Regions from separate parts of the Homo sapiens genome. Here all the other regions are linked to region 1. Evidence: fine-mapped expression QTL. A gene starts in region 1. Each other region holds a variant in brackets. All regions are shown on one strand. Distances are between the middles of the regions.

Region 1 (4,062 bases):
CTTCATTCAGCCGCTATTCCCATTTTACAGACGACTCAATCGAGGCACAGAGACGCTAAGCACACTCGCCCAAATGTGAAGTAGCAGGGCCAACATTCAATCCTATCTACTGGCTTCCAGCAAAGGGATCACTGGCGTTTCCTTTGATGCCAAGATTTCTAAGCTCTGATGTTTGTGAGCTGCAGCCCCCTGACAAGAGTATCAGGCTCCGGTTGAACAGAGAAGTCCAAAGCAGGGCGAGAACGGACGAATAATCACAGAGTCCCGCTGCCAGCCACCGGCTCAGAAGCCTTGAATTCTCCTAGCTGGGCGGGCCCGGGAGGGGGTTCCTCAGCCTCCCGCTTCCCTCAACACCCTGCGACCCCCGCCCCAGCCTGCCCAGGTTTCCTGCTCCCAGCACAGCAGGTGCAGCCAGCCATGTGCACAAAGGCCAGGCTGGTTCCCTGGGCTGCACTCGAGCAGCTCCTCCCAGCCCTGCACACATGGGGCAGCAGCTCTACCCAACCTCTCCCAGGGGTTCTGGGGAGGAGGGAGCAGGGGAGGGGGCGGGGAGGGCCCAGAGAAGGGACAGTAGTGCCCTGGGGGCCCCTGGGCAACCCAGACATGGAGGGGGGGGCAAGCTTGTGCCTGGCCACCTATGCCAGTGCCACCAGGTGCTGGGGGGGACACGGAAAGGACAGGAATCTTGCCCTCACCTGGCTCCCGAGCCAGGGGCCGGGGCACCCTGTGAGGACACTCAGAGGGAGGGAGTGTGCAAAGCCTGCAGGGCCTGGGAGGATGCGTGCTGGGGCTGCCTCTCCCAAATCCTGCTGGGGCGCAGGCTCTCAGGGTGGCTTCTGATGACAAATCCAGGCAGTAATAAGGGGCCCAGGGCATCACATCCCATAGCGTCATGAGACCAGCCCAGGGTGCCAGATGCAGGGCCCTGAGTGGGGAGGGTGCTGCTCTGGGCACCTGCTTTCTGCCCTCCCTCATTCACCCCTCCCCAGACTTTGATGAAACCATCTGTGGCTCCCGGCCTCTGCAGGACCCAGCCCCTCAGCTCCTCAGCCCCTGCAGGTGTCCCTCGGTACTGCCTCACGCCATCCTGCCCCAGGTGATAACTATGCCCTGAGCCCCCACCATTTCCACTGGGCACATCCCAGAAATACGCATTCACAGACCAGGCACGCCCATGACTGCGGCCAGATTTTAAAAGGAATCACCAGAAATGTAATCTCCAGTGGTCCTAGAGCCCCCTGGGCACCCAGCTTCTGGCACCCTGTGGACACCCAGGAGTGGGGGTCGGCCCAACCAGCTGCGCAGCCGCCCAGCCCTGCCAGCGGGGAGCTTCCTCCCTCCCTGCCCTCCGGATACACCCTCACCCCAACTGAGCGAGCCCAGGGTTGGGGGAGGTGCATAGTTCCCTTCCTAGCCGGTGCGAGAAATTGCGGAGAACAGGGAAGAGGGTGGCAGGAAGGGTCTGGTGCACGATACCCGCCGCGCCCGCTCGGAATCCTGGTTCCCTGGAGCGCTCACCCCAGCCCGCCCTGCCCCGGGGAGCGCGAGGGGGCGACCCGCCAGGCTGCACCCGGGCGGGGCGGGGATGGCGGCGGGGGCTGCCTCCCTCCTCCGCCGCCACCCCCCACTGCTGGGCGCGCCGCGCGGCCGCCGGCTCCGTGGAGACGCGCAGAGCCGGGAGGGCGCGGGCGCGGCGGGAGGTGTGCGGGGCTGGGGTGCGCGGAGAGCGCGAGGGAGGAGATTCTGAGCGAGGGAGGGGAGCGCGCCCGGGCAGCAGTGCGTGCGCTCCTCCCGGCGCCACAAGCTCGCCCCGCGCAGCCCGAGCCGGGCTGGGCGCTGTCCTCGGGGGCCTGGGGAACCGCGCGGTTTGGAGATCGGAGGCACCTGGAACCCGTGGCAAGCGCCGAGCCGGGAGACAGCCCGAGGAACCACGGGTTCTGGAGCTAGGAGCCGGAAGCTGGGAGTCCGGAGGAGAGCGGAGCCCGGAGCCCGGAGCCCGGGGCGGCGCGTCTGGGTCTGGCGCTTCCCGACTGGACGGCGCGCCCGCTGGTCTTCGCCACGCGCCCTCCCCTGGGCTCCCGTTCATCGGTCCCCGCCTGAGACGCGCCCACTCCTGCCCGGACTTCCAGCCCCGGAGGCGCCGGACAGAGCCGCGGACTCCAGCGCCCACCATGCGCCTCAACAGCTCCGCGCCGGGAACCCCGGGCACGCCGGCCGCCGACCCCTTCCAGCGGGCGCAGGCCGGACTGGAGGAGGCGCTGCTGGCCCCGGGCTTCGGCAACGCTTCGGGCAACGCGTCGGAGCGCGTCCTGGCGGCACCCAGCAGCGAGCTGGACGTGAACACCGACATCTACTCCAAGGTGCTGGTGACCGCCGTGTACCTGGCGCTCTTCGTGGTGGGCACGGTGGGCAACACGGTGACGGCGTTCACGCTGGCGCGGAAGAAGTCGCTGCAGAGCCTGCAGAGCACGGTGCATTACCACCTGGGCAGCCTGGCGCTGTCCGACCTGCTCACCCTGCTGCTGGCCATGCCCGTGGAGCTGTACAACTTCATCTGGGTGCACCACCCCTGGGCCTTCGGCGACGCCGGCTGCCGCGGCTACTACTTCCTGCGCGACGCCTGCACCTACGCCACGGCCCTCAACGTGGCCAGCCTGAGTGTGGAGCGCTACCTGGCCATCTGCCACCCCTTCAAGGCCAAGACCCTCATGTCCCGAAGCCGCACCAAGAAGTTCATCAGCGCCATCTGGCTCGCCTCGGCCCTGCTGGCGGTGCCTATGCTGTTCACCATGGGCGAGCAGAACCGCAGCGCCGACGGCCAGCACGCCGGCGGCCTGGTGTGCACCCCCACCATCCACACTGCCACCGTCAAGGTCGTCATACAGGTGAGCCTCAGTAACCAGCCCCGGGGCTCCCCTCTCCTTCACCCCAAAAGCAGTGCCAGTGGTGTGCCTTCTGGGTAGGGAGTGGGAGAGATGTCACAGAGACAGTCTACTCCTGCGAGGCTGGGAAGGCGGTTGGGGCAGCTTGGGGGCAGCTCCAGAGTTGCCAGGCTCAGCCCCTATCTTCTTCCCTCCTGTTGAGGGGATGGAGCCCCTGCCTGTGACCTCTCTGGTGTTGGTGGCTGGGCCTCGGACATCTCTGAATTCCTTAAGCCTAATGGAAACATGTGCGCTGGCACCTGCGTCTCCAAAGGAAGAGTAACACTTTCATCAGCTTCTCAAAAGACTGTGCCACCAACAGGTGATGTTCCTTCCTCTGCAGAGAAGCCCCCAGACTGGCTCTGCCGGTGCCTCCCAGCTGCCTGCCCTGACCCAAACTTGGGAGTCAGAACAGAACCTGATGCCGTGTTGGGCCAGTTCCTAGTTTAGCCTCAGCTTTCCCATCTGTGTGATGGGGTAGTGATAGCATTGACCTCAGAAGGTAGAGCATTGGAGAGAGGACGCGTGGGAAGTGTTTGCATGGCCCCTGACACATAGAAGGGCTCACAGGCACTATTATTGCGGGATGGTGGGGACGATGTTTCTGCGGGGAAGGTTGTGAGGATCTGCGTGTGGCGGCGGTGTTGTGGTGAGGTGTGTAAAACTGGAGCCGAGTGACTAAGGGCCCTCCAAGGGTCTGAGCAAAGCGCCGTGGGAATGCGGGTGGGAAGCCCCCTTGGGAATCAGTTTGGCTGAGGTTCGTGGCACGGGGGGTTCCAGTGCTGGAGGGGAGGGCTGATCAAACCAAAGCCCCGAGCAGGAGGCTGGTGTCCAGGGAGGAAGTCAGGGCCGGTCGGGAACTTTGAAAGGCATCTTGGAAATGAGCAGCCTTAGAAGTGTGGGGTTTCCTCCATTTCTGGTGGGCTAAGGAAGCCAGAGGGTGAAGGATCCGGGCAGAGTCGCCTACCTCTGCCCAGCTAGAGGGGCCAGGGTGGCTGGCTGTCCCCCCAACTCCCCACACACCAGCATCGCCAGCCTCCCAGCTAAGCTTCTGTAGTTGCCTGGGCACCCCGCGTATGCCAGTATGCCCGGTGGGGGTGAGGGCAGCAGTGCCGGGCAGGGGGTCACCTGTCTGTCACTC
Region 2 (4,062 bases), 31 kb after region 1:
GCTCCCTCCTCTGGAAAATGGCCCCTTATCTCCCCCAGACCACGCTGCATGCCCCCTGGTCCTCCGCAACAGCCGCATCCCTTTCCCTGCAGTGCCCATCTGCCCACGTCTGCCCCCCTCCCCCTCCTCTGCCTATGCCAGGTGCCTTGGATGCATCAGGTGCACCGTCAGGGCTTTTGAAGGCTCCACGAGGCGGGCCTGGGCACGCAGTGCACGCAGAGGGTGATGGAGGGTGCTAGATGGCCGGCCTGGATGAACCCAGGTGCACGCAGAGGGTGACGGAGGGTGCTAGATGGCCGGCCTGGATGAACCCAGGGACAGGGACAGACAAGGCAGGTGCAGCCACTGAGTTCTGGAACATTCCAAGAAGAGTCAGGCAAACTACTCCCTGCTCAGGTCTGCAGCCCGGCTTGGGGAGAAGCCTGCAGCTGTGGGGTCAGCCTCCCAGCTGCCAGCAGTAATAGCCCGAGCCATGGGGAGGCCTCGTTTCCTAAAAAGGCCTCAGCTGCCGCTGCGTTCCTGCAGGGTGGAAGGACAGGCTGATGACCACCAGCGAAGTATCATGAAAATCTCCCGGCGAGCCTATGAGCCGTACATTTGTCTCTCTCTAGAGACAGGCTTCTCCTGGAGCCAATCAGCCCTCTGGCTTTCATGGGCTCCTACCTTGCAAGGTGGCCACAGGCCTCAGCCGTGCCTGTGTTGGCAGGGAGCCCTGTGCACTGCCTCTCTTCTGCCCGCGGGGTTAGCATGGCAGGAACCCGGGCTGGAGGCTGGGAACACGTCCAGGCTCACGCTGGTCCTCGAGGTGGCTCCAGCCTTGCTGCTCTTGGCAGCAGAGATGGCGGAGGGTCTAGGTCTCAGGCCAGAGATCTCCAAAATGGACCAGCCCATCCCCTTCCATCATGAGGAGGAGACAGGGCCAGCACGAGAAGGGAAATATGCTCAGGGTCACTCAGCGAGGCCAAAATCCTGGGCTGCCTTGTTCTTGACTCTAGGATCTAGAAATGGGAAAGCTGGGACTTGTCGCCTCCCCAGTGATCTATCTTTTACACACGCGTGTTTTCATGCACTGAGCCATTCATAAAACAGAAAAGCCAAGCCTCCTCACTGTTGTAAAGGAAAGCCCTGCGTGGCTGTGAGGGAGACGCGTGTGGAACCTCATGTCGTGTGGCGCCGTTGGGGACCCGTTGGGCTCTTGAGACTGAACCGGGACAGGCTGAGAGGCTCTCCAGGACACTTCCGGGCAGCAGGCCCCCTCTGGCTGTGCTTGACCCTGGCCCCTGGGCCCTCTTGGTTCACCAAGTCTCCCACGTCCTATGCTCTTGAGATCCCAGACTCGGCACTGGATGGGGTGGCCCTGGGTCCCACTGCTGTTCCAGAGCACTGGCCCTTCCTTTCGGCCACTCAGGGTAGAGGCTGGAGCCCCTGGAATCACACAGAAGGGGCCTGGCTGAAGCACAAAGGGTGGAGATCTGGGGTTAAGCCAGAGCCTGGGGCCCCCTGAGCCCAGGGGCTGGGCAGCTGGGGAAGCAAGGAGAGCCAGGTGTCACTGAGTCAGTCCCTCCCATGCAGGTACTTGGGGGTGTGAGGGGCCGCCCCCGGCCTTCCTCTCTCACCCCTACGGCCTCTTCCGGTGGGTGAGGACACTTGGCTCTGTGTGTTCACCATAATCAGATTCACCACAACAGGGCAGAACACTAATTCCACTGACACCGCTGAGATGCTGTGTAGAGCCAGATGTCTGTGGGACACGGCGGCCAGCTTTGCCAGGGCGTGGCCACTAGGCGCTGGGAGGGGCAGGATGTGCCTGATGCCCATATGTCTGCATGGCAGAAAAGCACACAGAGAACCGTGGGGCTGGAGGTGCAGCGGCCGGCGACGGCCAGAACTGGAGAACAGGCCGGCGGGGTGCGGGACGCATATGCTGTCCCGCAGGCAACTGGGAACACTTGCTCTTTTCCAAATCTGTGCTCTGACATGGAAAGTTAAGTCGTGCTGGGACTGCTGGCCCCTGGCCGCACCGCCTCGTCCCCAGCTGCAGGGCCTCCCCCTTGATCACAGCAGCTCCTCCTTGGTCACAGCTGGGGCTTTGCACAAACTCCCCGGAAACCCAGGGCTTGCGTTTGCAGGTCTCTGGGCTTTTCCTGCATGGAGCAGAGAACTTTTCCGGATGGTGTGGCTTTTTTCAAGGAACCGGGCTCCAAAGCGCTCTGTGCTAAGTGTGTTAGCTCCACTTCTGATCTGTCA[C/T]GTTAGTGCCCTGCGTTTTAGAAAAGTATGAACGAAAGCCTCAGCAAACCGGATCGAACGGGCTCATTCGCAGCCATAGGGTGAGCGGCAGGCAGATCTTACAAGCCGTGCAGGCCGGAAGGAAAAGGGTTGTGGGGCTCATTCTTAGTCATAGGGTGAGCGGCAGGCAGATCTTATAAGCCGCACAGGCCGGAAGGAAAAGGGTTGTGGGGCTCATTCTTAGTCATAGGGTGAGCGGCAGGCAGATCTTACAAGCCGTGCAGGCCGGAGGGAAAAGGGTTGTGGGGCTCATTCTTAGTCATAGGGTGAGCGGGAGACAGATCTTACAAGCCGTGCAGGCGGGAGGGAAAAGGGTTGTGCCGACAGTCTGAGGGTGGAGACCAGAGCTGTGGACTCGAGCCCAGGGGAGCCCCCACCTGGCCACGGTTTCCTCATCTGAGAAACAGGAGTGCGAGGCCCTACCAGGGATCCTTCCCGCTCAGATCCCCAGAGAGGTGGGGGCCGTGACCGGGGCCAGAATTCCACCCCTCACTCACTGCTCTGCGCAGCCTCCTGGGCTTGTCAAGAGTTTTTAAAGCCCTGTCGTGCTTCCCAGCAGATGCCTTGTGGGTGTGAGCATTCTCATGGGCTTGAAGCTGGCAGATATTTGAAAACATGGCAGAGACCTGCAGCCCGCAGCCTCAACCGCTGGCTGTCACCTGCCGCTGCCTGTGATTTACTCTTGAGAAGTGCTGGAGCAGCTGAAAAGCAACTCGCCACCCCAGCACTGCCCTCAGAGTGACTAATGGGGCACACTGGGGTTCTGGGCCCCGGCCAGGCTCAGCGAGGGGAGGGCCGTTCCCGGGGCTGAGGGCCAGGGGCCTCCCCTCCTCCTGTCCTGGAGGGCACCTGCCCAGCACAGGTAGAGGAGGCAAGGGTGTCAGGAAGGCTCTTTCCCTAATCTGACTAAGGCCCTCTGGGCTAAGTCAGGGGTCTCCCGGCAGCCAGGCTGCTAAGTCAGGGGTCTCCCGGCAGCCAGGCTGCTGCCAGTCCCGCAGCTCAGCCGGGCACAGACAGGATGTGGCTTCCAGGGGCTTCTGTTCTGCCAAGTCCCCACTCAGACAATGGCCTCTATAGCTCCAGCAATCAGGAGGGAAAAGATTCCAACTCCCACACTCAGGGCTCCCTGCTGCCTGGAAGAGGAGAGGAGGGCAAACCTCTTGCAGAGGTGACGGGTGACTCACCAGCCCCGCTCAGAGGACGGGTCTGCAGGTGGCCAGAGTTCTCCTGATGGGGTCCTTGCCCCCAGCTGGCTTGGGGGTCCCTACACCGGCCCCCTGCCCCACACCATGTTCCTCCCACCCCATGTCTGTGCGCCCCTTCGAGCATGCCTGGGCATTGTCCATGGTACTGAACCCCTGAGGCTCCCTGGGGCTCTGGCATTCTCTTGAGCCTTTCCCAGAAATTCCAAACCAGAAGAAAAGTGCAGGGAACAGAGTGGAGGAGCCATGGACAGAGGCTGTGGGGCAGGCTCAGTCCCTGAGAGGTCGCCAAGGAGCCACAGCCTTGGACTAGATGCTCTCAAAACCTGGCAATGGCCCACAGAAGGCATCTGCTCAGGTGAGGTACATGCCACAAAGCTTCACCAGTGGGGATGAGGATCTGCTCATAGGATGGCCCCTGATGGAGGAAGTGGGAGCTCAGGCTGTGGGATCAGGCCCCTGGGTTCACAACTGTGCCTGGGTTTCTTTATCTACAAAAGGAGCCTGACAGGAGCCTCTGCCTCACAGATGAGACCTGTGTGCCTGAGGTGGTGCACACAGAGTATGTGTAGAC
Region 3 (4,062 bases), 32 kb before region 1:
CCCAGATTCCCTTCCCAGGTCCAGGAGGGCCCCTCCAGTGGGCAGCCCGGGCTGCCGGCCACCCACGCGGGCTCTGCCACCCCTCAGGCAGCTCCCAAGAGCTGCGGGGTCTCTGCAGCTCTTGAGCTCTGCTGCCCTCGCCTCGATCTAAGCTCCCCTTGCCTTCCCCATTGACAATCCGCCTGGCTCTGACTCAGGCCCAGGGAGGAGACAGGAGCAGATGGCTGACAGGGACAGTTGGGACACAGGGGCAGAGAGGAAGCAGTCTGGTTGCAGCCTGGTCCCGGCCCCAGCCCCCCAGGCCTGATGACCCAGCCTCTGTGTGACTCAGTGCAGGGAGCGTGTGGCTCCTGGCCCTGCCACAGAGGCCAGAAGGCATCTGCAGATGCCCACACAGGCCCCCCGCTTCTCCGGGATCACGGGCGCACCCAGCCTGGTGGGCACATGGGCCCTGGATACGCCCTCGGCTGCATGCTGGCCTGGGTCCTGGATGCCTCCCACAGCCAGCCCCTGTCCTCCCACGTCCTGGGAGGAGCCCCTGGGATTAGCCAGGAAGGTGCCGGCCACAGGGCCCGGCTGCCTGTGGGGAGGAGAAAGACATGCATCCTGGGAGAGGGAGAGGCAGGCAGGAGTCCTCCAAGCCCACTTGGTTTTCCCTCGAGAGATTTTCCACGGCTGCTGGGATGAGGGCTGCGGGGGCCTCCTGTGTGCTGTGCACTAAATGTTCTTCAAGAGTCAGACGCCAGGAGCAGCTGGAAACGTCAAATTTTCTGGTTGTTGGACCAGTTCCTCTTATTCTTCTGTGCATTTAAAAATTATCACTGAATTCGGCCGGCTCGCCAGCGCACGCCTATAATCCCAGCACTTTGGGAGGCTGAGGCAAGCAGATCGCTTGAGCCCAGGAGCTTGAGACCAAACTGGGCAACGTAGCGAAACCCTGTCTCTGTAAAAAAAAAATACAAAACATTAGCCGGGCATGGTGGCGTGCGCCTGTAGTCCCAGCTACTTGGGAGGCTGAGGTGGGAGGATCGCCTAAGCCTGGGAGGTCAAGGCTGTCGTGAGCCATGAATGTGCCACTGCACTCTGGCCTGGGTGGCAGAGTGAGACTCTTTCTCAAAATAATAATAAGAAGAATTCCTACAACCCAACAATGAAAGGATGATCCAATTTAAAAATGGGCAAAGGATTTGACTTTTATTTCATCACAAAAGACATAGAAAAGGCCAACGAGCCCAGGAGAAGATGCTCAAGATTTTCCCACTCAGGGAAGTGCAAACCAAAGCCACAGCGCTGACCGTATCAAAAACAAAAGCAACAAACAAACAAAACCAGAAAACGACACGTCGTGGAGAACTTGGAATCCTCACACACTATGGGTGGGAATGTAAAACGGTAAAATGGCACAGCCGCTTTGGAAAACAGTTTTGCGGTTCATCAAAAAGTTAACCATGGAATTAGCAGATGACCCAGCAATTCCACACCTAGTATCTACCCAAGAGAAATGAAGACATATGTCCACATAAAGACATGCATACAAATGTTCACGGCAATGTTGCTCATAACAGTCAAAAAGTGCACCAGCCCGAATGTCAACTGGCTGATGAGTAGGTAAATCAGCGTGGGCTGTCCACACAGTGGGTCTTGCTTGGCCGTCAATCAGAAAGAATGAAGCCCTGCGCTATGGTGTGCAGGTGCGCATGGACCTTGAAACATGCTCAGTGAAAGAAGCCAGACACAAAAGGCCACGTGTTTTGTGATTCTTTTGTAAGAAATGTCCAGAATGGACAAATCTGTAGAGACAGAAAATGGACTAGTGGTGCCAGGGGCTGGGGGAAGGTGAGGCGGGAGCGACTGTCATGGGTGCAGGGCGTTTTGGTGCAGTGATGAAATGTTCTGGAGTTAGATAA[C/A]GGTGATGGTTGCACAACTCTGTGAACATGCTTAAAAAACCGAATTGTACACTTTAAAGGGTGAATATTTGGGGATGTGACTTATATCTCAGTAAAGCTATTATTAAATACATCCATCCATGCATTCATCGCTGACTGCCTGCCCTGTGCTTTCACTCCTGTAGACCATGGAGATCTGTTGGGGGATCTGTGTCTGTTCCATAACTTTCTGGTGTCTGTTCCATAACTGCAACTCTGCCAGGAGAGCATGTGTGGGCCCCATGTTCAGATGTACCACAATCTCCCTCCCTGCTCACTTCCTTAGGGTGGCAGGAGGCAGAAAGGGGGCTTGAGACCTACACTCCAACCCCACTGAGCAGAGGATGGCAGGAGGCAGGAAGGGGGCGTAGAGACCTGCACTCCAACCCCACTGAGGCAGATATTTTCCAACAACGGCCACAATATGTCCCATTTCCTCTGCTGGAGGTGGGGTCTGTGCACCCTCTTTTTGAGCCTGGCAGGCGATTGGGAGTGCCTCGTGGCAGAGGTGACACAGCTTCTACTGGCAGTGCCTTCTGGGAACGCTCAACTTGGGAACCCAGCGCCACGCTGTGAGCAAGCCCAGGTCATGGGAGCCCCCGCTCTGGCACCAGCTGTCAGCCAGGCCGAGTCCGCCGTGATGGGGGTGCCGTCTTGGGTGCTCCAGTCCCCAGCTGGGCTCTCTGTCCCCACTTCCCCTTAGGGGAGGGAATCAGCCCTTCCCACCTAGCCACACCTGCAGATTTGGGAAGGAAAGAAGTAAGGATGCTGTTTTCAGCCTGAGGGCCTCTGCTGTCAGTAAAGGCTTGAAAGAAAGTGAGGCAAAGGTTGATGGAAGCTGGAGGAAGGGAAAACCTCAGAAGACAGGAACAGTAGGTTATGCAGCGCTGTGGCCTGCAGGGACACAGAGGCAGAAAACGTGCAGATGCCCTGGGCGAGCGGCGACTCCAGGCAGAAACGCCAGCAGGCTTTATTGCAGCTGTGCATAAGAAGGAGAAGAGAGGGTTTTGTTTAACTTCAGTTTTCAAGCAAAATTTAGATAAAATTAAAGAAGTCAGGACTTAACAGAATTTAAAAGAAAGCTGTTGACAATGCCAAGTGCTGATGAGGACTCTGGTGGCTGGAACACTCACCCGTCGCCGGTAGACGTGGAGAGCAATACGGCCGCTCGGGAACCCAGCTCGACAGTTTACTATAAAGTTAGACCTGAACCTTCTTATAACACAGAAATTCCACTCCTAGAGAAAGGCAAAATTATGTTCACACAAAATCTTGTACACAAATGTTTCTTACAGCGCTATTCTTTTTTTTTTTTTTTTTGAGACCGGGTGTTGCTCTGTCACCCAGGCTAGAGTGCAGTGGTGCAATCTCAGCTCACTGCAGCCTCTTACTCCCGGGTTCAAGCGAATTTTCACAATCATCAACAAAATTGGAAACCACCCAAATGTCCTCTAGGAAGTGAAAGGATAAATAGTCGTACAGCCACACGATAGACTCAGCCGTGAGAGGGGGGCACTGTTAATATGCAACAGGGACGAACCTGGGAGGCACCACGCTGAGCAAAAGAACCAGACCCCAGAGGTTAGTAGTGTGTGGTTTCACTTACACAACAGCTTCCAAAAGGCAAAGCTGCAGGGATGGAGAGGAGACAAGCCGTTGCCAGGGGCTGGGGTGGAGAGGAAACTGTGGCTTTTAAAAGTAGCATGGGGCTGGGCAAGGTGGCTCGCGCCTATAATGCCAGCACTTTGGGAGGCCGAGGCAGGCAGATCACTTGAGGTCAGGAGTTCGAGACCAGCCTGGCCAACATGATGAAACCCCATCTCTACTGAAAATACAAAAATTAGCATGCCTGTAATCCCAGCTACTGCAGAGGCTGAGGCAGGAGAATCGCTTGAAGCTGGGAGGCAAAGGCTGCAGCAAGCCGAAATCACACCACTGCACTCCAGCCTGGGCGACAGAGCAAGACTCTGTCTCAGACAAACAAACAACAAAAAAGTAGCATGGCAGAGCTGCTCTGGGTCACGAAGCTATCTGTGTCCTGATGGTGGACGTGGTTCTGGGTCATGAAGCTATCTGTGTCCTGACGGTGGACGTGGTTCCACAAATCCATACATGTGTCAAAACTCATCAAATTCCT
Region 4 (4,062 bases), 68 kb after region 1:
CATGAGGCCGAGCTGGGGAAAGTTCCGGGGGGCTGCTTGGGCTCTGTGCTCCCTCCACTGGGGCAGGCGGAGGGCCCTGCGTGCTCCTTCCAGGCAGGGGCTGAGGGGACTGTGGAAGCCACGACAGGGGTCTGTGTGAACAGAAGACCCAAGGACAAGGTGCCCCAGCACTCCCAGCCACTAGCAAGGACAGGCAATTTTCAAAACTTCTCCCCAAACTACAACCTCAGGAAAAGGGGTGGAGAAAACTCCTTTGACAGAGATTTGGTTTTCACCACCATGACAGGACAATGATGATGGATGGAAGCTGTGGCTGGGCGTGGGAAGGCTGAGTGTGCAAATGTGGGTGGAGTTCTGGGGCCCCGCCCCCGCCAGTCTTCCACTTGGTCCCTGTGAGGACCCACATGAGGGAAGTGTTGCTTCTGGCCTCAGAACCCAAGGCAGAGCAGGCTGGAGTCCCACCCCATGGATCACGAGCCCACGCTGTGACCCTGAGTCCTGGACATGCGCAGAGGGAGGGTGTGCACGAGCCCGGGAGCTCCTGTCTCTGTCTTAAGAGTGGAGCATGTCTTAAGAGCTGGCATGAGGATCAGAGGGTCCCTTCAGTGCGGCCTTCTAGAAGAACTACAGCAACCAGGCCCTCGCAGGGGGGAGATGCACCTGCTGGGGCTAAGGAGCGAGTGAAGCCAGCCCCTGAGACACATGCTCCCAACCCCATCCTCACCTCCCAAGAGAGGGGGAGCCTCCTGTTAAGCATCCAAGTCCCAAGTCACCGGCCGGCATCGGCTGCAGCTCTCTGTGTGTGGAGACATCTCATTCTGGTGTCTTCTTTACACAGGTCAGCGCTCACAGGCTCGGCTGTGTCTCAAGACCCAATTCCTTCGAGTCACTGAGATGCCCAAGGACAAGGGCAACAGAGAGTGTGAAAAGCTGGAGTAGACAGGACAGAAAACAGGGTGCAGCGTCCCCCAGGTTGGCAGATAGCCCAGCCCCAGGGACCCCACAGCCATGGCAACCTGTGTGAATGAGCCCCAGGAGCAGGGCAGTACACGATCTGCGCGACTGTGCGGGGCAGCCCTGGGTCTCTGCCTCAGGGGAGAGATTGTGTCCTCGCCTTTTGTGGTTTCTAGAGGTTCCTGCCCTCCTTGGCTGCACGGCATCTCCCAGCCTCTCTCTCCCTTCCGTCGTCCCCTCTCCTCCTCTGACCCTGACCCTCCCAGTCCCTCTTAGAGGGGCTGTGATTAAACTGTGCCCACCCTGACCATCCAGAATAATCTCCCATCTCAAGGTCCTTAACAGCATGTGGAACTGCACTAGCCGCCCCAAGGCCCCCAAAAGGCAACCCTGGATTGGGCCCCCCAAGTTGCCTGGGATTCATGGCCACCACCCGGCTCGACGGCTCCAGACCGAAATGCACCCAGTTATAGAAACAGACAGTTGCCTCTTGAATGTGCACATGTGTGAGGAGAGTGTCACACCCGTCGAATTAAGGTGGACCCGCCATGAGTGGGGGCAATGCTGGCCAATGCCCACCTGCCCAGCACCCACAGCTCTCGGCCTGGGGCTCCCTCTGTCTCTGGAGCCCGCACTAAAGTGTGCGTCTCCATCCACGACTGGCAGGGCTTGGGGCATAGACATCCCGCTGCCTTGCCTGGAGGCGCCCCAGGCCTCCACTCCCACACTGTCTCAGGGCTCCCCGGGGCTCGGCTCTCCTTGCTCACAGTGGTCCGGGCTGGGGTTCCTTCTTGGTTGCATTTCCAGCTGTGTTCTTTCCTTCACTTTCTCACTCTCCCTTGCCTCAGGGTCTGCATCTGGGGGTCCACTGGGGAGGACTCAGCCTCTCCCGCGTCCTCCATCCCACACACCTGTCCCTGGGCAGCCACGGGGAACAGGAGCACAGGGGACAGCAGGCAGAGGGCAGCGCCCGGGCGAAGGGGACTTTCGCCCTTGCTTCATGCAGCCCTGGCACCCGCAGCAGGGTAAGACGAGATCCCAGAGGAGGAGTCTTGGCCGCAGAACTGCAGGGCCAAGGCACCAGCCGCTCGGGGGCCTGGAGAGCTCAGGTCACAAACTTGAAGTCAGCTGCCCAGGAAGCAGCCTCAGCTGGGGGTCACAGGCCAACTGGGCAGTGCCCTTGGCCACACCTGTGGAAGGAGGACAGAGGAGGGCAGGGCGGAGGAGGGAGGTGCTGGGCTGCAATGTCACCTCTACAGACCTCGGCTGATCCCAAGGGGGTCCACAGTGGATATGGTCCTTCAGGGGTGCCCTTGAAGGCA[G/A]GAAGGGGACAGGACTTTATACTGTTCCTCCCACCCCTTCGAGCAGTCACCAACTGCAGCCCAGATGAGGTCAACAGGTACAGAAAGGAGGGGGTGGGACAGGAAGGAGGGGCGGGACAGGAAGGAGGGGGCGGGACAGGAAGGAGGGGCAGGACAGGAAGGAGAGGGTGGGACAGGAAGGAGGGGCGGGACAGGAAGGAGGGGGCGGGACAGGAGGAGGAGATGGGAACAGGGAGGTGGAACGGGAAGGAGGAAATGGGACAGGAAGGAAGAGATGGGAGCAGGAAGGAGATAGGACTGGAAGGAGGAGATGGGACTGGAAGGAGGAAATGGGACAGGAAGGAGGAGATGAGGCAGGAAGGAGGAGATGAGGCAGGAAGGAGATGAGGCAGGAAGGAGGAGATGAGGCAGGAAGGAGGAGATGAGGCAGAAAGGAGGAGATGGGACGGAAAGGAGGGGATAGGACAGAAACGAGGGATCAGGGTCCTATTCTAATCTCCTGGGGGCATGATTGCAGGGGGTGACATGATTACTTCCAGCCAGCCCTACATGAGCCACCTCGTCCATGGAGTCAGCCCCGCCAGGGCAGCAGAGCCCTGGGTTCGCACAGGGAGCCAGGGTGGCGTGGGGCCTGCATTGCAGACTCCATTTGTCCACATCAATCACTTCTCTACGGCCCAAATCACCCTTAGTTGCCCAGTTCCTGCTCCGCGGCAGTCTGGCTCCTGCTGGCGCCCCAGCCATCTGTCTGCATTAGAGAATGATGCTTGCCAGGGCCTCAGGGAGGTGGCACGGATGGGCAACACTGTGCTCCCGGACCAGGTGACAGACACCACCTCATGCCCCATGGCATGGACCTCCACCTGTCTGATGGCTTTGCCCCAGCCTATCTGATGGCATGGTCCCTGGCCAGTCTATCTAATGGCGTGGTCCCCAGCATGTCTGATGGCGTGGTCCCCAGCCTGCCTGATGGCGTGGTCCCCAGCCTGTCTGATGGCATGGTCCCCGGCCTGTCTGATGGCGTGGTCCCCAGTCTGTCTGATGGCGTGGTCCCCGGCCTGTCTGATGGCGTGGTCCCCGGCCTGTCTGATGGCATGGTCCCCGGTCTGTCTGATGGTGTGGTCCCCAGCCTGTCTGATGGTGTGGTCCCCGGCCTGTCTGATGGCTTGGTCCCTGGTCTATTTGATGGTGTGGTCCCCAGCCTGTCTGAAGGTGTGGTCCCCAGCCTGTCTGATGGCGTGGTCCCCGGCCTGTCTGATGGCTTGGTCCCTGGTCTATTTGATGGTGTGGTCCCCAGCCTATCTGAAGGTGTGGTCCCCGACCTATCTATCTGATGGTTTGGTCCCCAGCCTGTCTGATGGCGTCGTCCCCGGCTTGTCTGATGGCATGGTCCCCGGCTTGTCTGATGGCATGGTCCCCAGCCTGTCTGATGGCATGGTCCTCAGCCTATCTGATGGTGTGGTTGGTGTGGTCCCCAGCCTATCTATCTGATGGTGTGGTTCCCTGGCCTATTCGATGGTGTGGTCCCCAGCCTGTCTGATGGGGTGGTCCTCTGTTGGCTGGTGTGATCCTGCCTCTTGTCTCACATCGTGAACCCTGGCCTGCAGGAGGTGACCCAAGGCTGATGACTCCTTCTCCGGGGCCCTTGCACCACACAGCCTGGCCCTGATTACAGCCCCTGGGCTCCTGTACCTGTCCTCGCAGCCCCCACTCTGCCACTTTGCATTTGTCTGTTTCACTCAACACACATTTAATGAGCACCTACTGTGTGTACCAAGCCCAGTGG
Region 5 (4,062 bases), 20 kb after region 1:
CAAGGCTCAAGGCCCTCCTGGAGTCCCCGAGAGACCGCCTCATCCGCCTGGGAAGCGGGTTGCCTGCATAAGCCAGGGCAGGACACACCAGCCCCACACAGGAGCCCGTGAGGGCTCCGCACTGCCCCCACCCTGAGCCGGGCTCCTGCAGGCTCCCCGGCCCCACAGACCTGTCACCACGTAGATGCGCTCTCTCCGGCTCACAGGGCCTGAGGACAGGGTTTCCTCTCCACCCTCAGGGAGCAGCAAGGGCTGGGTGGAAGTGGGGGGTCCCAGCAAGTCCCAGCCCAGAGTGCCAGGAACAGGTGAGCTGGAGTGAGGAGTGAACACTGAAAACACACAGGCTGTCACCGCCTGGGGCCACGGGTTCTGCCCCAGAGATAGCGCCAGCTGGACTGCCGGCGGGTCTGGAGCCACCTCTGCACCTTGCCCGGCCGCCGGGCTCAGCACCGGTCTAAGGAGAGTCCGCTGTGGTACGGCCGCTGGGCAGTGGCTCTGAGCCCTCCGCCTCCAGCATCGAGGTGACTGAGGGGATAGCACAGAGAGGGTGGCTGGACGTGGATTTCCTGGAGGGGAGGCGGGAGTGCCTGAGCCACAAACAGGTTTCATCACAAAACCTGTGTCTGGCGTGGTGGCAGGGGGACCTGTGGGCTGAAAGCAGCAGCCCCTGGATCAGCAAATGGCCCCGGCCTCAGAACTGCACAGCAGCGGCCACCAGGGCCACAGCCGAGGGCCAGAGTGGGAGAAGAGCAAGGGCAGGCGGGTATGGGTGCCATGGCAAGGGTGGGGCCAAGTGGGCAAAGGGACAGACCTGTGTTCCCGGCGCTCCCGGCGTGGGCCGACCCAGCACCTGGGGCCTGCACTCACTCACCTCCTGTCACAGCAGATGGTGCTGGGGACCCAGCGAGGCCTCAGGGCTGCCCCAGGCCCACGGTGCCTGCAGGGCCAAGGAAGGGCCAGTCTAGGCCCGGCCCCATCATCTGGCTCTTTACTCCCCCTCCTGGGGCTCCTTATGACCACAAGGACGAGCCTTGTGGATGAGGGGTGTGGACTGGACAGCAGGGAGGGCTTCCTGGAGGAGGGGCTGAGTCGGCTTTGAAGTCAGGGGAAGGGAGTGGTGCACAGGTCCCCCCGAGTCTCCCAGCATCCGAGCCTTGATCAACAGGAGGGAGATGGGTACCTTGGGGTCGGTGCTCTCTCTTTCCCTCCCCGGCTACTCAGCTGGACCCCAGGGTCACCTCCTCCATGAAGCCCTGTTTCCCCATCCCTGCGGTCAGTGTGTGCGGCAGCCCCACCCTGAGGAGGGGGTGGAGCTGGGTGGGTGCAGACACTACTGGTGATGAACAGACAGACGTCCCCGCAGGAGGGGACGGAGCTTCCGTTTCCAGCACCAGCTTCATTCCCGGGGATTTTTACTGTTCAGTTTCTAAAAATGGCAGAAGTTCATTTCTTAACATCCCCTTGGCAAGGCTGCTTCCATTTCGGTGAAAGTGGAGGCCGTTTGTGGTTTTCTCTGCCTGCCGGAGGCTGGGCCACGGTGTCTGCGGAAGACGCTGTGTGCACAGCTGGGCTTTCTTTGTGTGTGCCAGCATTGCTCAGGAAGGGGAAGGAAAAGGAAACTGAGTCGCGAAGGGCAGGCCAACACCCGGAGGCCAAGCAGGTTTCACGGCAGCCACTTCTGCCAAACGCCAGAGGCACGTCCACCAGGTCACCTGGACAGCCCAGCCAGGTGCCCACCCAGTTTCTGTCACCTGCACCCAGAACCGGCCCTCAGTGGAGTCCTCGCTCCAGACAGAGGGGCTTCAGGACACTGAGAAGGGTCTTGGGGTAGATTCTTTTCTGAAGGAAGCCGGAGATGCTGAGTTGGAAAGGGACCCTAAGACTGTCCCCTGACCCCACCCAGCCCTTCCGGCGACACTCAGAAGAAGCTGCTGGCAAGAGCCAAGAGATGGATGTCCAGTCCTCGGTCTGTGCACACCTGAGGGGCTCGTGCCCTGCAGGGAGCTAAACCTGAGACTGAAGCTGTATCCAGACACACTTACTCA[C/T]GGCATGTCCCAAATGCCTGACACCCACAGATCCACCCAAGTCTGCTTCTCTGCTGTGCCTGCAGCCCCCAGGAGTGGCTATCTGCATGGTCAAAGCCACTCCTCCCAACTTGGGGGCTCCGGGAGGAGGGCAGGGTGGGGAGAGAGTAGCTCCCTGGGAGCCCCAGGGTGGCCTGCTCAACACAGGCTCTGTGGCTTCCAGCCCACTGGGGAGAGATGAGACAAAGGGAGAATGGAAAGATCTGGAATTTCTTTCGTGCATGGAGCGGGGGCAGTCCTCAGAAGCACAGCCTGAGACAGGGATTGTGGTGCAGGTGATGGATGGAGGGTGGGCCCTCAGGGGAGGAGAGGGAAACACAGGTGACACAGGTGTAGCTCAGAGCCTTATAGCCTCAGGAATCTCCCCCAGGGGTGCTTCCAGAATGCAGACCCCAAGGCTCACCCCAGACCAACTGGATCAGAATCTCCAGGGCAGAGACCTAGAACTTGGGGCTAGGGGTTTCTAATTTTTTTTTTTTTTTTTTTTTTGAGATGGAGTCTCGCTCTGTCACCCAGGCTGGAGTGCAGTGGCACGATCTCAGCTCTCCACCTCCCAGATTCAAGTGATTCTCCTGCCTCAGCCTTCTGAGTAGCTGGGATTACAGGAGCCCGCCACCTCCCTCAGCTAATGTTTTATATTTTTGGTAGAGACAGGGTTTCACCATGTTGTCCAGGCTGGTCTCAAACTCCTGACCTCAAGTGATCTGCCTGCCTCGGCCTCCCAAAGTGCTGGGATGACAGGCCTGAGCCACCATGCCTGGCCATCTAAATTGTTATTAATAGACTTTATTTTTTAGAACAGTTGTAGAGAAGCGTTGAGCCCACAGGACAGCGGCTCCATGGTGTCTCCTGGCCCTCACCTGTTAATAACAGGTGTCTCCCTGTTATTAACATTTTGCATTAGTGTGGTACATTGTTACAATTAATGAGCCAATATTGATACATTATTAAGGAAAGTCTGCAGTTTATATTAGGGTTCATCAGTCTTGTACCTTCTGTGGGTTTGGACAAATGTGTAATGTCCTATATCTACCATCCCAGGATCCTGCAGAAGAGTTTCATTGCCCGAAAAAATCCTTGGAGCTCCACCTGTTTATTCCTCCCTCCCCACAACCCCTGGCACCCACTGATCCTCTTACTGTCTTTCCAGTTTGTCTTACCCAGAACGTCACACAGCTGGGATTATACCGTATGCAGCCTTTTCAGACCAGCTTCTTTCCCTTCGCAGTATGTAGTTGAGGTTTCTCCCTGTCTTTTCATGGCTTGATAGCTTGTTCTTTTTACGGCTGAATAATATTCCATTATCTGGATGTCCCCCAGCTTGTTTATTCACTCAGCTATTGATGGACATCTTGGTTTTTGGCATTTATGAAGAAGGCTGCTATAAACATACATGTGCAGGTTTCTGTGTGGCTTTCACCCCTTTGGGAGTAGAAATGCCAAGGAGGGCGATCGTTGGAACACGTGGTAAGGATACGTTGAGCTTTGTAGGAAGTTGCCAAAGTGCCTTCCAGCACGGCTGCGCCATTTTGAATTCCCAGCAGCCACGGGTGAGGGCGGTTCTGTTGCTCCGCAGCCTTGCCAGCGTTTGGTGTCGTCAGGATCTTGGTTTTGGTTTTTGTAGCCATTCTCATTTGATCTCATTGTTTTAATCGACATTTCTCTAATGACATATGATGTGGAGCATTTTTCTTGTGCTTATTTTTCCATTGCTACGTCTTCTTTGATGAGGTGTCTATTCAGATGTTTTGCCCATTTCTTCATGTTTGTTTCCTTATTGTTGAGTTGTAAAAGTTCTTTATATATTTTGGATAACACTCCTTTATCAAGTATTTTGCAAATATTTTTTCCTAGGCTGTATCTTGTCTTCTCATTCGTTTAACAGTGTCATTTTTAGAGCGTTTTTGTTTTGTTTTGTTTTTGTTTTTTCTTTTTTGTTTTTGAGACGGAGTTTCGCTCTTGTTGCCCAGGCTGGAGT
Region 6 (4,062 bases), 25 kb after region 1:
ATCTTAGGAAGAAAAGCTTCAGGTTTGTCACCATTGAGTATGACATGGGCTGTAGGTTTTTAGTAGATGTTCTCTACCAAGCTGAGGGAGTTCCCTTGTATTCCTGGCTTGTGAAAGGTTTTTCTCACAGATGGGTGTTGGGTTTTGGAAAATAGTTCCTGTTGCCATGATGGATTTCGATAATCTGTTTCCGAACCCTGGAGCAGCCTCGCATGCCTGGAATAAATCCTGTGCTGTCTAATTCTTACCATGTAGCGCTGCATGAGATTCGCTGCTATTTGTGTAATTCTTAGTATGTGGTGCTGGTTGGGAAATCCTGTGGTGTATAATTCTTAGTATGTGATGCTGGATTTGCTGCTGTTTTGTTGAGGGTTTTTGCATCTGTGTTCATGAGACATCCTGGTCTGCGTTTTCCTTTCTTGTAACATCCTCGGTTTTGTTATTGGGGTAATGCCGGCCTCGTAGAGTGAGTTATAAAGTGTTCCTCTGCTTCTATTTCCTGGAAGAGACTGTAGAGAGTATCTATCATCTGTTCCTTAAATGCAAGGTAGAATTCTAAGTCCGTGTCCCTGCGTGGCTCCAGGCACGCTGGTTCCCCATCTGACCCTCCGCTTGCTTTTCCTCGGGCTCTCCCTGCCTGGGCCTGGAGGACCACAGCGGGCACAGGGGGCGGCTCAGGCTGAGAACCAACGGCGCTGACGTCGCCTAAAGGGGGTTCCCAGCTGGCAGCCTCCAGGTGCTGGAATGTTTCTCGGTGAGAAGCCGCCACGGGAGTCTGTGGACTTGTCACATCACCCGCAGGCGTGGCCCTGAGGCCACGTATCCAAGCAGCAGTGCCGTGCATATTCATGTCGGCATTGGACTTGCAAATTCTGAGTGAAGTAAATGTCATCGGCAGTGTGTAGACGTTCTTTCGGAAGAAGATCTGTCAGAGAAAATGCAAGCTGATTACCAGCCTAACAGAGAAATGTGCATCCCGGTCCCCGCAGGGCCACCCTGGAGGCACCTCTGCACCTCCCAGGCACAGCTCTGGGAAGGCTGAAAATTAGCACCAATTAGGGAAGAATGAAGCTCTTGGTTCCCTCCTGAAGCACTTGGTTGAAGCTTGCTGCGCTCCTTTCCGGGAGCAAATGAGCATCTCTCGGGACAGTTGTGTTTCCCTTGGGCAGGGAGCCACTGGCAGCTCCCCAGTGGGAATCGTGCCTTCTAGTCCAGATTTCCACTTTGGAAAGGGAAGGTTCTAGAAAGTTCTGGAAAGCTCGGCTGTGGCTGACTCCTGGCTTAGGGCTCAGGCCTGTCTCACCTAGCAATGCAGGGTGAGCCATGTGGGCTGGCTTCTGGGGATGGGGAGGAGAGATACACACATGGAGAAAAAGAGGGAGATAGAGAAGAGAGAGGGAGAGAGAAAAGGAAAGAGAGGAGAGAGGGAAAGGCAGAGAGAGAAACAGAGGGAGAAACACAAAGAGAGGGAGAGAAGGAGAGAGAGACACAGAGAGAAAGGGAGGAACAGAGGAGAGAGAGGGGAGGAGGGGGAGGGAGACAGCACCCTCTTCTCCCTACCCTTGCCTGGGGTCTCAGCTGAGAGAGGGAAGGCTCTGTGCTGGGGAAGAGGCCTCCAGCAGGGAGTAGTGACTGATGAATGTATGATTGCTACTTTATCTCAATAGAGGATTCGAACAGCCCCCAGGCAGGGTCGCATTTTAAATGATGGTTTTGGGTGCTGAGCCAGCCCAGCTTGGAGGGGGTTTCGTTTCACAGATGAGGAGCCTGAGGCTGGGGGAAGCCACTTGCTCAGATGCACACGGCTGGGGCCGGCGGCAGGTTTGCCCGACCTCGAGTCTGCGCTTCTCATCCTGGAAGCGACCGCCTTGTCCCCTGCGCAGCCTCCTTCTCTGGCTCAGCCACGTGGGTTACTACTGAGTTCACTCTTCAGCCCTGGTGGGGGACGGGCAAGAGATGGGGCGTGAGGGGCGGGCGGAGGCAGCGAGGTCTGGGATGAGAGCTTTTCTGGAGCCTTCTCTGGAGTGTGACCCCCTTCCCCGCAAAAAAAAAAAAAAATCTTGGCTCAGCTCTTGGGCTTCGGTGCAGTAGGGGCTTTGTGGCCGATGCAGAGGAAGCCGAGCTCTGCTCCTGGAAGGACGTGGCCCCTTGTCTTACCCAGGCTTCATTTTGGGGCCATCTTTTTAGGTGGTTGAAAATGAGTAACTCATTCTTGACCTTGTGCAATGCCCACGCCCTGTGTCCGGGGCTGACCTGGAGGCTCTGGGTTCTCTGCTGAGCAGAGCTGGGGCCAAGACCACCCCTGGGGAGCGAGGAGCAGGCGCTGGTGTGCCTGGCCCAGGTGGCTTCCCATAAAAGCTGCAGGCAGCCCTGTCTAATGTGGCAGCCCTGGGCCACACGTGGCCACTGGGCATTGAGACATGGCTGGTCTGAGTGAAGATGAGCTTC[A/G]GCCTGAAATCCGCACCGGGTTTTAGAGTTAATGCGGAAAGGCGGTATACAATAGCTCACTAATACCGTTGCAAGTTGATATGATATTTTGAATACATTAAGTTAAATAAGATATCGTATTAAAATTATCATAGCTGTTTCCTTCCACTTTTGTAACATAGCTACTGGTACATTTAAGCCTCACGTGGCCTGCATCCTATTTCCACGGGACTGTGCTGCCCGAGCCCCTCCCTGCTGATGAGAAGCAGCCCTCGGGTGGCTTTGGGGTGTGTCCAGAGCCTGTACAGCCTCCCCTTGGGGTGGGGTGCCGCGTGCGGGGTGCCAGGCACCAGCCGGTGCTGAGGCCCCATGTGGAGGCAGCCCTGCATGATGGGCAGCAACCAGTGGGGTGCCATCGTGTGCGGTGACGTGCACACTAAAGAAAGACGCTCAGCTCCCTCCTCTGCCCCGCCTGGCCGCCAGCTCAGTGCCAAAACCATGGTTAGGGGGTGGGAGGCCACGGGTGCCCTTGGGGACCTACCAGGCCTGCAGGGTCCTTGGCAGAGGGGCAGTGCCTGGCACCAGGAGGACACTGTGCTGGAAGGTCAGCCTGTTCCCACAGCCAGGGATGTGGGGCTCCCAGGTAGCCCCATTCATAGTTATTTGAATTGCTGTGATGGAGGCAGGCGGAAGAGGTGGGACTGCGAGGGAAGGCAGGGGCCCCCCGGGGAGAGAGTGGGTGCCTCCTTCCCTTTCCTCAAAGCCCAACGGCCTTGCAGTGAGACTGCCACTATACAACAAAGAGCCAGCACCGCTGTGCACGCTGGAGTCTCACAGATGAGCCGATTATGTCTTTGTGACAAACACATTATTAGGAGTGAGATGAATTCCTTCTGTGGGCGGGGATGATTCAGAGAGAGGCGTCCCAGCCCCAGGAACAGCCTCCCCGCAAGGTGGCCTCAGCCTCCCCCATGCTCCCCTGGAGGCCGCTCCCTGGCTTGGGGGGTGGGTAACACGGGAGTCCCCCCGACACGGCGAGGTGAGCTCACCTCCTGAGGCTGGCGTGCAGGGAAGTAGGAAAGGGCACACACTGCGACCGGGGACCAGGGACAGGGTCTTCCCCGCTGTGACCTGTGGGGCTGTGCAGGGGGCGGGAGCAGCCCCCATCCCAAAAGGAAATGGGACAGGAGTTGCCAAGAACAGTTCCCCTTACCCTCCAATTCCTCACGGGTTCAGCACTTTCTCTGAGGGGGTCTGGTCTGAATCCCAAATTCAGATTCTGTATTCAACTGTTCCCTTCATTACAAAGAACAAATTTCCGAGCCCAGTAATTCCCGTTTAAATTTGTCAATTTTCATCCCTCGATAGAAATCAGTATGTGGTGATCACAAAAGCCGGGGTATTAGCCCAGTGGACAGTTTGTTCTGAAACTTGTCCCTTCGGGGCAGGGCCTGGGTTAGGAGGCCTGAGATCTGCCTGGAGCCTGGGGTGCCTCGGGCAGGGGCATCGTGGCTGGGGATTCTCTGCACTTGCCCCATGGAGCAGGGCGGGAAGGGAAGCCAGGCTCCTTTCCCTGTCTGGGTCTGGGGCTGCTGCCCTTGGCAGCTGGGGAGACCCTGGGACCCCAGAGGCAGA
Region 7 (4,062 bases), 21 kb before region 1:
GAATTAGCAAGACAGTGTGGGGAAGGTACCCTCCGGGGACTGGGGGGCTTCTGGACTCCGAGAGCCCCTGCGTCCATTCCTGTTTATCGCGGCCACTTCCCATCTGGGCAGGGCAATCTCTGTACCTGGGGAGTGCAGCCGCCCATGGAGACGGCTCAGAATAATGAGCTGAGTGTCTCCGTGTAGCTCCCGCCCCAGTGCGGAGCTCCTGGTACAGGATGGCAGGTGGTGTCTAAATAGCTATTCATAAGGACATTATCTCCAAGCACCGGGTGGAAACGAGCCTTCCTCCCCCCAGCTGAGAAGTGACAGGCACTTCCCTGTTTACTGAGGACAACAGTCAACCGCAGAGCGGCGTGGAGCTCGCAGTTCTTCTCATGTCACAGTTGTGACTGAGTGTCATGTCCTAAAGCTTCAGGATGAATGCAACTCCGCTCCACCAAGGGCCGGGGACAGAGTGAGAAGACACTGGCGCCAGGAGCGGGGAAGAGGGGAGGGGCCGGCAGCTGCCTAAAGAGCAGGCCCTCCTGCTGTTTCTGAGCCCCCGAGGGCCCTCTGACCCCAGACACCTTCCCTGCCAGCTGAACACCATTCCAGAGTCAGATCTTGGTTTTGTTTTCTTTCTTTTAAAAATATTTTATTATAAGGTGAAAAGAAAAGGAGAGTACACTAAGTCTTAGCCATGGTTGGCCCTTTAGTCTGAATTAGTATATCAGCTATTTTACCAAGGGCAGGTTTGGACGGTGCAGAGACAGGAAGAGAGTATCAGAGTGCCCAGCACCACAGAGAAGGGGTGGCTGGCCAGGGCGCCCATTGCAGGCAGATGAAAAGGGTGCCCCCGAACAGGCACGATGGGTAGGGCACCCCCAAACAGGAGCAATGGGAAGGGCACCCCCAAACAGGAGCAATGGGAAAGGCACCCCCAAACAGGAGCAATGGGAAAGGGCACCCCCAAACAGGCACAATGGGAACGGCACCCCCAAACAGGCACGATGGGAAGGGCACCCCCAAACAGGCACAATGGGAAGGGCACCCCCAAACAGGAGCAATGGGAAAGGGCACCCCCAAACAGGCACGATGGGAAGGGCACCCCCAAACAGGAGCAATGGGAAAGGGCACCCCCAAACAGGCACGATGGGTGGGGCACCCCCAAACAGGAGCGATGGAAAGGGCGCCCCCAAACAGGAGCGATGGAAAGGGCACCCCCAAACAGGAGCGGGGGCCTCTGAAGGCAAGTGGCAGCAGCTTCCTAATCCTGGCCCCACGTTGTTCCAAAGGTCCATGAAGTTGACCAAACGCCACACAGCCACGGGAGACACAGTGGCCACCCTGGGGCGTCTACACTGAAGGCCAAGGGCATGTGGAGGAAGAGCCATCTGAGCCGAGGCCCGGGGAGGAGCCAGCAGGCCAAGGAGGCGGAAGAAACCACGCAGTGGCGTCCAGGGCAGGGCAGGTGCGTCATCCGGGCGGGATGCAGAGACACGTCCTTCCACCAACCATCTGAGGAGCACTTGGCACCCACACAATGAGCCCGGCAAGGGCCACGCCAGGAGGCAGCGCACGGGGCAGAGCCTCTGAGCCAGAGAGGGGGAGGTCCCTTGGGAGGCCCCTGCCATCCCCCGCTCTGGGTGGGCCTCTCCAGCCAGACTCTG[C/T]GCCCCAAGGGCAGGGCTGGGCCTAAGCCACACCTCGGGGTGCACGGGCTGTGGGGGGCCGCTCCTGGACACGGAAGGACGACACCGGCTTCCCTGTACCTCTGCTGGGGCCGCGGGTCCCATGTCGTCAGCGTGGCCACTAGGCTGCCAGCCTAGCACAGCCTCCAGGGCAGCCATGGCCCAACCTGCCTTCCGAGCCTCAGGGGTATCCCTGAGCACATGGGAGTGCAGGAAAAGGTACCCCAGGGGATCCCCACTCACCTCCCGGCCATGTCCTACCAGGCACTAGTGCCGCGCTGCAGCCACCCCCGGGCCTTACCCACCCCCACCAGCTTCATTGCCTTCCAGGTCCCAGCACCACCAGTTTCATTGCTTTCCAGGTCCCAGCACCACCAGCTTCATTGCTTTCCAGGTCCCAGCACCACCAACTTCATTGCCTTCCAGGCTCTCAGCAGCATAAGAGACCTACACACACACACACGTGCACACATACATAGAAGGGGCTGACTCACACGCCACCCCATATGCAAGCCGCAGAAGCTGGGCGTCCACTGAGCAGCAGAGATAGCCCATCCCAGAGGGCAAGGAGGATCCCTGGGGTCCCTACGAGAACACCTCGCCCAGGTCCTGCCCGCGGCCCCCCACGAGGCCTCTTTGGGAGGGAGGCTGCCCCCTACACCACTCAGTGCTAGGACTTACCCATGCACCCCCCAGCCCTGTGCAACCCTGCCCGTGCACCAATGACCCCACTCACCCCTGACCCTGCTCACCCCAACCCCGCTCACCTGTAGCCCCACCAGGTTCTTAAGCAAAAGCTCAGTCTGTGTGCACACAGCAAACACAATTCTGCCTATATTTTCTCGGGGTTTGGGGCTCACATTGGACACTGGAGGCTCTCTTGAGTGAGTAAGAGCAGCAGCTCAGGCTTTTGAAGGCAAAATGGAATGGACGCAGGGCCCAGGAGACACCAACTGGGTGAGAGCAGGGCTCCAGAGCCAGCAGATGGCTGGGGTGGGGGATGCATGCCCCCTGCCACCCACTCCAGCAAACCCGGTCCCCTGACTTGGGTTGTGTCCAGCAATGGCTTTCTGGGCTTGAAGGCAGAGCTGCCAGGAGGAAGGAGTCCCTCTGCAATGTCAGAAGCACCAAACACAGGGGAGACCTAACTTTCAGGGCCTGGGGGAAGCTGGGGTGGCCAGGCTGGTGGGAAGGAGACATTAACATTTTCCGAGAAGCCCTTTAATTCTTCCCAATAAACCGAACGAGTACAAGCCTCAGCATGGAAGCACAGCTTTCTAGAAGCTGGAAAATCAGGCTCATCACAAAAGCTCGAGCACAGTTAATTTCCTCTGACATTTCCTCCTGTGGTTAGTCTTGGAGCCAGCAGGTGGCCGGAGGCGCCCCATTCTTTCCCATAAATGGACGGTCTCTAAGGAATCAAGTCAGGCCCTCATCTCCAAACCCTCATCCCATTTTTCCCTGGCCTGCACGTGGCCAGCTGTGCCCCGCGCCTCGTAGGCCTGTCCCTGGCTGTGCCCCGCGCCTCATAGGCTTGTCCCTGGCTGTGCCCCGTGCCTCGCAGGCCTGTCCCTGGCCGGCTGTGTCCCGTTCCTCGCAGGCCTGTCCCCGGCTGTGCCCCGTGCCTCGCAGGCCTGTCCCCGGCTGTGCCCCGTGCCTCGCAGGCCTGTCTCTTGGGCAGAGTGGCTCCCTCTCTCCATCAGTCCTTCCTCCATCACACCGGTGCTCGTGCAGAAGCCAGGGCTCGCAGACATCACCCTAGGCACTGAGGATACCAGCTGCCCGAACGGACAGACGGACAGATGCTCAGCCTCCTCAGGTGCTGGCCCATGGCCTCCCAGGCTGGATGAGCAGCAGGTCCCTACGGGGGACGTGGCAGAGGGGACCCCAGCCCCAGCAGGGCCCAGCGAGCCGGGTGCCCAGCACAGCACTCACCTGAGCAGCTGTCTCCACCCCGCATTGAGCCCCTCCTGGGGACCGCCCCTTTCCAAAGACGCCCTGGTCATCTTAGACCCCCAGACCCTCCGGAAGGCGACCGCCATGCCTTAATAACTTGCGGGGGCTCAGGCAGAGCTGTAGGGATCCTGCCAAGCTGCCCGATTCCTTGTGTTCCTGGCAGGGGGATCCACATCATCCTCACCCCACTCCATGTGTGGGACGGGGCACCCAGGAATGTCTGGGGCCGAGGAAGGGGGTGGACCTGAGGGAACCCCTACCTGCAGAAATAATCATGAAAGGGGTGGAGCAGATGCGGGGGACCCGCGTCCCCACCCTCACCCCCAGGGGCTGAGTCGACGCCTGCAGCCAGCGCCTGCACTCCTGTTCACATGGGCTTCCCTGGCCTCTGTGCCTGCTTTGCGCCTGCGCGGCAGGTGAACGACCCCAGCCCCCT

Direction of the effects. Alleles are on the strand shown, and positions count from the first base shown. SD is a standard deviation of normalised expression in the study named. Not every link is listed here.
For the expression in stomach of the gene that starts at base 1,800 in region 1, allele A in region 4 goes with a lower level than allele G (small effect, 0.34 SD a copy in GTEx).

The links. PIP is the estimated chance that this variant, and not a neighbour inherited with it, causes the effect.
Region 2: its variant is fine-mapped to the expression of NTSR1 in whole blood (TOPMed, PIP above 0.99).
Region 3: its variant is fine-mapped to the expression of NTSR1 in whole blood (INTERVAL, PIP above 0.99). The same link has a PIP of 0.9 or more in blood mononuclear cells.
Region 4: its variant is fine-mapped to the expression of NTSR1 in stomach (GTEx, PIP 0.97).
Region 5: its variant is fine-mapped to the expression of NTSR1 in blood mononuclear cells (TOPMed, PIP above 0.99). The same link has a PIP of 0.9 or more in monocytes and whole blood.
Region 6: its variant is fine-mapped to the expression of NTSR1 in whole blood (GTEx, PIP 0.99).
Region 7: its variant is fine-mapped to the expression of NTSR1 in whole blood (INTERVAL, PIP above 0.99).

The regions. Positions count from the first base shown.
Region 1 is chr20:62,707,037-62,711,098 of GRCh38, forward strand. NTSR1 (neurotensin receptor 1) reads left to right here and starts at 1,800. Exons shown (of 4, transcript NM_002531.3): 1 at 1,800-2,885. The coding sequence starts at 2,172. RefSeq lists enhancers at 764-1,277, 1,278-1,790, 2,000-2,546, 2,547-3,091.
Region 2 is chr20:62,737,953-62,742,014 of GRCh38, forward strand. The region is part of intron 1 of NTSR1 (neurotensin receptor 1); the gene reads left to right. Among named protein-coding and RNA genes, the nearest start is that of NTSR1-AS1, 4.6 kb to the left of the region's middle. RefSeq lists enhancers at 1,808-3,007, 1,988-2,616. The variant C/T (reference allele first, on the strand shown) is at 2,248.
Region 3 is chr20:62,675,305-62,679,366 of GRCh38, forward strand. It overlaps a transcript of SLCO4A1 not described here. Among named protein-coding and RNA genes, the nearest start is that of SLCO4A1-AS1, 11 kb to the left of the region's middle. The variant C/A (reference allele first, on the strand shown) is at 1,908.
Region 4 is chr20:62,774,591-62,778,652 of GRCh38, forward strand. LINC00659 (long intergenic non-protein coding RNA 659) reads right to left here and starts at 2,266. Exons shown (of 3, transcript NR_046225.1): 1 at 2,216-2,266; 2 at 725-796. RefSeq lists a silencer at 1,573-1,734. The variant G/A (reference allele first, on the strand shown) is at 2,277.
Region 5 is chr20:62,727,076-62,731,137 of GRCh38, forward strand. The region is part of intron 1 of NTSR1 (neurotensin receptor 1); the gene reads left to right. It overlaps NTSR1-AS1 (NTSR1 antisense RNA 1), which reads right to left. Exons shown (of 2, transcript NR_199009.1): 2 at 2,855-4,062. Among named protein-coding and RNA genes, the nearest start is that of NTSR1-AS1, 6.3 kb to the right of the region's middle. The variant C/T (reference allele first, on the strand shown) is at 2,046.
Region 6 is chr20:62,732,258-62,736,319 of GRCh38, forward strand. The region is part of intron 1 of NTSR1 (neurotensin receptor 1); the gene reads left to right. NTSR1-AS1 (NTSR1 antisense RNA 1) reads right to left here and starts at 3,102. Exons shown (of 2, transcript NR_199009.1): 1 at 2,969-3,102; 2 at 1-925. RefSeq lists an enhancer at 2,526-3,371. The variant A/G (reference allele first, on the strand shown) is at 2,449.
Region 7 is chr20:62,686,001-62,690,062 of GRCh38, forward strand. It overlaps a transcript of SLCO4A1 not described here. Among named protein-coding and RNA genes, the nearest start is that of NTSR1, 21 kb to the right of the region's middle. The variant C/T (reference allele first, on the strand shown) is at 1,653.